Linked DNA regions of Homo sapiens. The protein of the gene in region 1 purifies or fractionates together with the protein of each later gene. This does not show direct contact. Each region holds a gene or a part of one and is shown in the gene's direction. Other genes may lie near its edges.

Evidence for each region. Proteins that work in one complex are often made in the same cells at the same time.
Region 2: the proteins of ARL6IP6 (region 1) and GSTM1 purify together in Homo sapiens (affinity purification with mass spectrometry; 2 studies listed by BioGRID and IntAct, with this or other methods). This does not show direct contact.

What each region holds. Positions count from the first base shown.
Region 1 is NC_000002.12:152,724,433-152,729,094, forward strand, and holds part of ARL6IP6 (ADP-ribosylation factor-like protein 6-interacting protein 6), read left to right. Parts: intron 1-4,662.
Region 2 is NC_000001.11:109,686,064-109,691,185, forward strand, and holds the start of GSTM1 (glutathione S-transferase Mu 1), read left to right. Parts: upstream 1-1,753; 5' UTR 1,754-1,810; coding exon 1,811-1,846; intron 1,847-2,053; exon of another isoform or gene 2,054-2,106; coding exon 2,107-2,182; intron 2,183-2,609; coding exon 2,610-2,674; intron 2,675-2,984; coding exon 2,985-3,066; intron 3,067-3,161; coding exon 3,162-3,262; intron 3,263-4,207; coding exon 4,208-4,303; intron 4,304-4,390; coding exon 4,391-4,501; intron 4,502-5,122. UniProt on the Homo sapiens protein: Conjugation of reduced glutathione to a wide number of exogenous and endogenous hydrophobic electrophiles. Involved in the formation of glutathione conjugates of both prostaglandin A2 (PGA2) and prostaglandin J2 (PGJ2).

The sequences.
Region 1 (4,662 bases):
AAGTATGTATTATAATTTTTATACCATAGATAGTCTAGGTAGTATAGCAAGGCAGAAAAAGAATGGGTTATCAGCAAGAATTAGCCATGTGCAGCTAAATTATTAGTCATGAAATTATTACAGGACTCTTCTTAACACATAAAAGCAGTAATAAGAACCAGACATTAGGACCCCTAAATCTCAATAAATTGAGTTGACATTGTGTGGTACTCTGTAGTCCAACTTTGGTGGTTGGGAGGGACGTTTCTTAGGCTAATGAAGTCAAAAGTTAGCTGGCATCAGAATCACCTGAAAGATAAATTTTGCTGCTCTTCACATGGTGCAGAATATCTGACTCAGTAGTGTGAGATGGAGCCCAAGAATTTTCATTTTTGACAAGTTTTGAGTTGATGCTCTGCATGCTGCTAGTTAGGGGGCTATATATACTTTGAACACCACTGGCCTAGTAGTTCCCAAACCTGACATAAAAAAAAAAGCAAAAAAACGAAGACCCTGGAGATTTTCTTTTTTTGCTTTTACGGAATCTTAGACCCTATAATTATCTACTGAATCGAAGTAACTTAATTGGCTGTATGTGTCAGTGTACACTGTACAATCAGGGCTCATTGGACCATTTTTCATTTCTGAATTATTTCGAGCAGTTCTGTTTGTAAGGATTGAAATTTCATGACTTATTCTTTCTTAGGGATCTTCAAAAGAATAAAGAAAACTGAGCTATATTTCTCATAAAGTTTATTTGATCTTGAAATTACCACATTGGTCTATTGGACATTTTTTAATTTTGAAATACGTTTTGGGATTTTAGTGGTCACATATTGTTCTTTCTCAAAACATTCTCCTATTTCATTATTTTAGTATTACTCATCAATTCTCAACTATGGTCGAAAGAATAAAATAATTATGATGGAATTAGGATTCCAGTAAGACTTTCCTAAGACTTTAAGTATTTTTTTCATCTTTTATGAGGTCTGCATCCTAATTTATTTGATACTGTTTGTAAGTGGACAGATGCTAAGGGCAGATGTGTATACAAAGGTGATTTGGAAAAAAAAATGCAAAAAAGAATTATTGGGTTGACCATTTGAATTGTTTGTAATCTAAAAATGAAAATATGTTACAAATTATGGAGCAAAGAAGATTGTTGTCCTCTTTTCGTCAAAATAAGCCATGAAAGGCTTAAAAATTCCTTCAAACATTGTGTTTTAATGACGCAAGTGCAAAAAAAAAAAGCAGGAATAATGACAAGCTGTAACCAATTTGAGATGTATCTGAAATCTGGAAGTGGTATTTACAAGATGGATATGTTGTAGATTCATACATGAAGTTAGTAAGCAATTATTTGCACTCAGGTCGTGCCCATTTTTGGTGTACATGACTTTAGGGAAACTGGGAATTGAAATTCGGATTTGCTGTATTTATTTCTTATGAAAATTTTTAACAAAGTTTTTTTCCTGCTGTCTTTTTGCTCTCTAAATTATTCTTCAAGTGTCATGAAAATAAAGGAAATAAAAAAGCCTCTTTGGACTTATATGATAAAAATATTGATGACTGTTTTCCCTGTTATACTGAAGATTACAAGCTTCAGAGGAGAATATAAATTTAACAGGATTGCCCATGAATTAATTGTTTAAAGCTGGATGATGGGTATATGAGTTTTATATACTTCTCTCAACTTTTTCCTGTGTTTGAAATGATCTGTAATAAAAGTGTTGGGTTTTTTTTTTAATTTTCCCATGTGAATCTAATGATTTACCAATGTTGGGAACTACAGGTGTTATTTATTTTTGAAATTTCAGTCACTTAATCTGTCAGAGGATCACCTTCCTCATCTGTTTCAACAGAAAGATGTAGAAATGCTACAGTCTGGGTTGCAGGTGGTCGGGCGATTGGGTGAAGGCCTTAACCAGTGTAACTGCTATAGCTACCATGCACTCTGCACCCACTATGCTCATGTTGCATTGGCAGGAGAGGAGAGAGCACTTTCCTCTGCTCCTGCACTTGGCTTTGACGTGTAAAGAGACACTTTGCTCTAGGGATTTAAAGACTTGAGCTATCTATAGAATGTGATTTAGAGAGGATACCAAATTATTTAAAATAATGGTCATCCTCTCAAGTTAGAAAACTATAGAATCTAATAAAGTTGAGAACATTTGCTTACATAAACATTTAAAAATTGATGGTTAGTTTCATGCATATGATACATCTAAGTTTTATTAGTAGCCAGCTGGTAATAGTTTTTACAACTTTTAAAGTTAGCTAAGTACAGCCATACACCACATACCATTTTGGTCAACAGTGGTCTGCATATATGCCTGTATGATGGTGGTCCCATAAGATTACAGTGGAGCTGAAAAATTCCTATTTAGTGGCATTGCAACTGTCCTAACTTGGTAGTACAATATATTGCTCACATGTTGGTGTTGATGCTGGTATAAACCAACCTATTACCAATCTAGTTTTATATAACCTTCCAGTCATAAAAAAAAATACAGCACAATTACGTGCAGTACATAACATAATTCTTGATAAACAATTATGTTACTGGTTTATGTATTTACTATGCTTCTTATTGTTTTAGATTATATTACTTCTGCTTAAAAAAAGTTGACTGTAAAACAGCCTCAGGCAGGTCCTTCAGGAGGTATCCCAGAAGAAGGCATTGTTGTCATAGGAGATGACAGTTTCATGCATGTTGTTGCCCTTGAAGACCTTTCAGTGGAAAAAGATGTGACAGTGAAAAACAGTGATATTACCTTGACCCTATGTAGGCCTAGGCTAATGTGTGTGTGTCTTAGATTTCAACAAAGAAGTTTAAAAACTAAAAAATTAGAAATAGAAGCTTATAGAGTAATGGTATAAAGAAAAAACATTTTTGCACAGCTGTACAGTGTCCTTTTGTTTTAAACTGTTAGTAGAAAAGGGTAAAGTTAAATTTTAAAATTTATAAAGTAAGAAAGTTACAGTAAGCTAAGGTTAATTTATTAATGAAGAGAAAAATTTTTTAATTTAGCGTAACCTAAGTGTACAGTGTTTATAATAGTCTATTGTAGTGGACAGTAGTGTCCTTGGCCTTCACCTTCACTCATCAGTCACTCGCTCACTGATTGACCCAGAGCAACTCTTTGTCCTGTAAGCTCCATTCATTGTAAGTACCCTATACAGGTGTACCATATTTTATCTTTTACACTGTATTTTTACTGTACCTTTTCTATATTTAAGTATGTTCAGATACACAAGTACTTATTGTTGTATTACAGTCGCGTGCAGTATTTGGTATAGTAACATGCCGCACAGGTCTGTAGCATTGGAATAATAGGATATAACTGTATAGCTCATAGGTGTGTAGTAGGCTATATACCTAGGTTTTTGTAAGTACGCTCTTGTGATGTACAAACAACAACGAAATCACCTAATGATGCATTTCTCAGAACATATCCCTGTCATCAGTGTATGATTGTATTGTATTTTCATTGTTAGTATCATAAAATGCATTAGTTACGTAAGTAATTTAATCTCACCAGGAAAGATTCCAACAATTAAAGCAAAGGCTTTCACCGATCTACCTGTGTGTCTTTTTACATCTTTTTCTCTTTGTTTACATATGTATAGTCATTTAAAATACATGTTTTTTTCACTGTTATAGGAAAAATATAATTGGAATCATGTATATTTTGCAGCCTTGTTAAAGTGCCTTTTGGAGTATATTCTGTATTAGTATACATAGGTCTACCTCATTTTTTCATGACTGCATTGTATTTCATAATATAAGTATACCAGTTTATTTAAACATTTCAAATGTCAGAATCTCTTACCCAGGACTTGGAAATTACTAGTATACAGTCACGTTTAATCCCATTGTTTACTTATGAAGTTTTATGAAGTGTGTGCAATTGATTGCCTAACACTTATTTAATAGGAAACCTTTCCCTAGTATAGGAACCATGAGAGTTTTGTTTTTTTCTGGTGTATTCTGATTATATATAATATGTGTAAATTGGTGCCTCTGTGTCTGACTTCATAAAACTTCTTGAAAGTTGCCTCATCCCCGTAAGCTAAAACTGTTAAACAAAATGAAAATATTTAGAGCATATAACAGCCTCTTTTGCTGGAAGGTTTTATAGAAATAAAGTTGCCAGCATATTTTTAGAAGAGTAACTGCTCCCTGACACCAGAATGGCTTATTTTGAAAAATAAGCCAAAACAAATATACCCTTAGATAGGTGTCTATAATATTCCAGCAAAGGGATTGGGATAGGAAATTCCTACCCATCCCTGTTTTTGCTTTGGATGAAAACAGTCTTAAGAGGTTTCAATTGATGGAAAAGATTAGTATACATCATTTCATTGGCCAGACGTGGTGGCGTCTGACTGAAATCCCAGAACTTTGAGAGCCCCAGGCAGGCGGATCATGAGGTCAAGAGATCAAGACCAGCCTGGCCAACATGGTGAAACCTCGTCTCTACTAAAAGTACAGAAATTAGCTGAATGTGGTGGTGCACACCTGTAGTCCAGCTACTCTGGAGGCTGAGGCAGGAGAACTGCTTGAACCTGGGAGGCGGAGGTTGCAGTGAGCCGAGATTGCGCCACTGCACTCAGCCTGGCAACACAGCAAGATTCCTTCTCAAAAAAAAAAAAAAAAATTAATATACATCACTTTGGCTG
Region 2 (5,122 bases), on another chromosome or scaffold:
CTCGTGGAGGTTGTACCATGGGTCACATATCACGGTGTGACTTCAAAGGCCACTGGAGCCACCGTCTCATACTGAAGAACACACATGGGTCAGGAGCCAGGTCCAGGTCCGGAATGGTGGATCTGGAGAGGGGAGGGTCCCTGCCTGTGGTCCTGTGGGGAGCCCTCAGGCTCCTCTCTGGCCACCATCCTCTGACCTCCCTCCTCAGCAGGACAGGGTTCTGGCTTCTCTGAGGGACAGGTTCTGTGGCAGGCCAGGCGTCACTAACACAGGCCTCCATAACAACTGTTTCAGTACTGACTGAGTGGTGAAGTTAAATATTAAAAGCTGAAAAAAGCCAGTACCTTTATACAGAGGCTGGATGTAACAAAAGCCCACCAAGAGTTTTGCTTAGGCCTTTCCTGGGCCTTAAAGCATGACAAAACAATGAAGGAATTCTTAACAGGACCTATTTAGAATTAAACAAGTTTTATTGTGAGTCTGAAGAAACTCCCCAGGCCTCCACAAACAAGTTTATTGGGCGTCTGAAGGAACTCCCCAAACCTCCGTGATTTAGCAGGAGACAAGATAAGGGTAATCATCCCCCGCACCTGGACCCATTTAGATTAAATAAATAGACTGAGGCTCCAGAATAAGGTCCTCAGGACCCAGACCTCAGTTACAGATTAAAGAAGTTAATCACTTATGTCTTTAGATGAATGCACACTTACTTGTAGACATATACCTTAGAAGGTATATATGCTCTGGAAAACTTTGTAATATTGAGTTGGTCTGGTGGTAATTTCTAGGCCTTCTCCCTGTTACCGGTTGCAGAAATAAAACCTCTCTTCCTCCCCATTTGATCTGCATCTCGTTATTGGGCCTAGAGAAATAGCAGCCGGACCCTCAGTTTGGTCCGGGAAGTTCTTCCATCCTCCCTCGCCTGCTCTCTGTGGCCACTGCACTCACTGTTGCTGTTGCTGTTCCGGTCTCTGTGAGGTTCACCTAGTGGACTGGCTGGACATTTCTAGGGGGCACCTCAGATACCTCACCAACTTGCTGGATCTGATCCTTGGATTTCGATTCATAAATTGTGCCAAAATACGAAGTGGCTAATTTACACAGTACTTAGCCAGATGACCGAAGGACTCAGTACCCGAGGGCCCCTAACAGAAAACACAGACCACATTTCCTTTACTCTGGCCCTTTTCCTGGGGGTCCTTCCTATACCACTGACACTGTTCCTGTGTAGGCGGGGCTAGAGGGGAGACTAAGCCCTGGGAGTAGCTTTCGGATCAGAGGAAGTCCTGCTCTTACAGTGACAGGGGCTGAATTAAATTCCCAGGTTGGGGCCACCACTTTTTAGTCTGACCCCTGCAGCCGGAGTCTCCCAGAGCCCTTGGGAACTCGGCAGCGGAGAGAAGGCTGAGGGACACCGCGGGCAGGGAGGAGAAGGGAGAAGAGCTTTGCTCCGTTAGGATCTGGCTGGTGTCTCAAGCGCACAGCCAAGTCGCTGTGGACCTAGCAAGGGCTGGATGGACTCGTGGAGCCTCAGGGCTGGGTAGGGAAGCTGGCGAGGCCGAGCCCCGCCTTGGGCTTCTGGGCGCCCTGACTTCGCTCCCGGAACCCTCGGGCCTGGGAGGCGGGAGGAAGTCTTACTGAGTGCAGCCCCAGGCGCCCTCTCCCGGGCCTCCAGAATGGCGCCTTTCGGGTTGTGGCGGGCCGAGGGGCGGGGTCGCAGCAAGGCCCCGCCTGTCCCCTCTCCGGAGCTCTTATACTCTGAGCCCTGCTCGGTTTAGGCCTGTCTGCGGAATCCGCACCAACCAGCACCATGCCCATGATACTGGGGTACTGGGACATCCGCGGGGTGAGCGAGGGTCCGCTGGACGGTGGGACGAGGGCGCAGGGGAGGGAAGTGCGAAGCAGCTGCGGGACGGACTCTAGGGACCGTTCCTCTTCAGGGCTGCCCGCCTCAGAAGGGCCTGTGCATGCCGCTGTGTGTGTGTTGGGGGTGTGGGCGGGTAGAGGAGGCAACGGGTACGTGCAGTGTAAACTGGGGGCTTCCCTGGTGCAGACAAAGTCAGGGACCCTCCATCTCTGACGCGACCTGCGGGCCATCTCTCCCAGCTGGCCCACGCCATCCGCCTGCTCCTGGAATACACAGACTCAAGCTATGAGGAAAAGAAGTACACGATGGGGGACGGTAATGGCACCCTCGTGTTCGGGCTCTGCCCACTCACGCTAAGTTGGCACCAAGCAACCCATGGTGGCCACCTGTGGCTGCCTCTGCAGGCCTCCCCTGCTGGAGCTGCAGGCTGTCTCTTCCCTGAGCCCCGGTGAGGGAGCCCTCTGGCCTTGCAAGGCAGAATGCTGGGGTGGGATGCTGGGCCCCCTGTCTAATTGGGACGGGTGTCCCTCAGGGCTTGCCTAAACCCTGGAAGCCTTAGCTGTGTGGGGTCCAGAGCCCTCAGCGGGATTCTTTGTCCCTGAACCCTGGGATGTGGGACTGAGTGGTCAGATTCTAGATCCACCTGTCTCAGGGATCTTGCCACTGGCTCCGTGGGAGGGTCCCCGGGAAGGAGGGCTGGGCTCTGGGGAGGTTTGTTTTCACTTCTTCTTCCCCACCACAGCTCCTGATTATGACAGAAGCCAGTGGCTGAATGAAAAATTCAAGCTGGGCCTGGACTTTCCCAATGTAGGTGCAGGGGAAGGGGCGGTTTTGGGGGAAAGTGCAACGTGTCTCTGACTGCATCTCCTCTCCCCAGCTTAGAGGTGTTAAGATCAGGAGTCTTCTGCCCAATTCCTCTCACTCCTGGCTGTCTAAACAGTCCTTCCATGATGTTCTGTGTCCACCTGCATTCGTTCATGTGACAGTATTCTTATTTCAGTCCTGCCATGAGCAGGCACAGTGAGTGCCCGGTCTCCTCTCTGCTCTTGCTTATGGGAAGGGGATGCTGGGGAGCCTGGTGGCCCAACTGAGCTTCGCCGGTTTCCCATCCATCCAGCTGCCCTACTTGATTGATGGGGCTCACAAGATCACCCAGAGCAACGCCATCTTGTGCTACATTGCCCGCAAGCACAACCTGTGTGAGTGTGGGTGGCTGCAATGTGTGGGGGGAAGGTGGCCTCCTCCTTGGCTGGGCTGTGATGCTGAGATTGAGTCTGTGTTTTGTGGGTGGCAGGTGGGGAGACAGAAGAGGAGAAGATTCGTGTGGACATTTTGGAGAACCAGACCATGGACAACCATATGCAGCTGGGCATGATCTGCTACAATCCAGAATTTGTGAGTGTCCCCAGTGAGCTGCATCTGACAGAGTTTGGATTTGGGGCCAGGACTCTTGCATTCCTGCACACACTGGTCTTAAGTCCCTGGTACCATTCATCCTCCAAGTGCTTTCCCATACTATCAGCAGTTATTCTCACGACTCCAATGTCATGTCAACAAAAGCAGAGGCAATTCCCACCAACCTTAGGACACGATCCAGGCATCCCAGGGTAGAAATTCAGTTCCTGTATGGTAAAGTTTGTGTTCAGAATCTCCTTCATCAGCTCTGGCCTCTGACTTCTGTCCTGGGTCATTTCTGTCAGCCAGTTCACATCACCTGCCTGCTCCTAGAATATGCAGACTCAAGTAGAAGACTCAGGAATGTAATGGCACCCTCGAATTGCATCTTCTCCTCAACAGTTTTCTGAGTGCTGTCATTGACATGCACAGGGATCTGCGCATTTTCATAACAGACAGCTCAGAGGCAGTCAGAGGGCCTTTATTCCTCTCCCTCCTTCCTTTCAACTTGAACTTCTCATCTCCCTGGAAACTAGTCAATGTTCATTGTTTTCTTCTGCCACCCCATTAGAAGGAACTTTCTACTTTCCCTGAGCTCCCTTAGTTCTTTGCATCCTTGATTCTGCTGGTCTGGATCCAGAGGCTGCCAGGTGCTTGGGCGCTCCTGGGGCTGACCCAGAGGCTATTGGGAGGTCAGTGAGGACAGATTCAGGGACAGCATCTCATTCCTCTCTGCCTTCTGATCAGTTTAGATAGGGTCTGGCACTCAGTCAGAGTCTAATAAATGCTGATGTATCCAATTGAAGCCTGGGCACTGCCCCAGTTCCAGCTTGGGGAAGATGGCTGCTTGCCCATGGCCAGCCTGGGCCGTCCACAGCCCCGGGGAGGCCACGTCTGTGCAGGGAGCTTTTGTCCGAGGGTGGTGACAGCTGTTTTCTGCCTCAGGAGAAACTGAAGCCAAAGTACTTGGAGGAACTCCCTGAAAAGCTAAAGCTCTACTCAGAGTTTCTGGGGAAGCGGCCATGGTTTGCAGGAAACAAGGTAAAGGAGGAGTGATATGGGGAATGAGATCTGTTTTGCTTCACGTGTTATGGAGGTTCCAGCCCACATATTCTTGGCCTTCTGCAGATCACTTTTGTAGATTTTCTCGTCTATGATGTCCTTGACCTCCACCGTATATTTGAGCCCAAGTGCTTGGACGCCTTCCCAAATCTGAAGGACTTCATCTCCCGCTTTGAGGTGATGCCCCCATCCTCCTTTCTCTTTGATGCCCCTTGTTCCGTTACCTCCTTTCAGATGTTTTCCCAGTCCTGGAGCTACACACAGAATAACTCGCATGTATTGAGTACTGGTTTCATGCCACGAACCGTGCCCAGCACATTATACCTATTGTGTGAAATTTGAATTTTATAACATTCCAGTAAGGTAACAGAATTATCTCGCCCATTTTAGAGATAAGGAAACTAAGAATGAGAGGGTCAGTCCTTTGCTCAGGGTCCCAGAGCTAGTGGAGGCTGTGCTGGGCTCCCTGTGAGCCTCTGGATCTATGGGTGGCAGTCAGGGCTCTCCCATTTGTGACAGAAGAAAAAGCCTTAGGCTTCACCTAGCCTGGGTTTCACAGCCCAGGACACTTTGGAAGAGGCAGAGAACTTCATGACCATAGATGGAGCTGGCAATAGTAGGACTGACACAACGGTGACATTGATGTCTAGTACTGAACCCACAGGCAATATTCATAGCTACCTCCAGAAGCTTTGCATGATTGGACCCCAGTGTGGGGAATCCTGAGAGCCAGGGCTGTGGCTGTAGCTGGATTAAGGTACATATGTGGGTGTCCCTGTTGAAGGAGTATATGTTGAA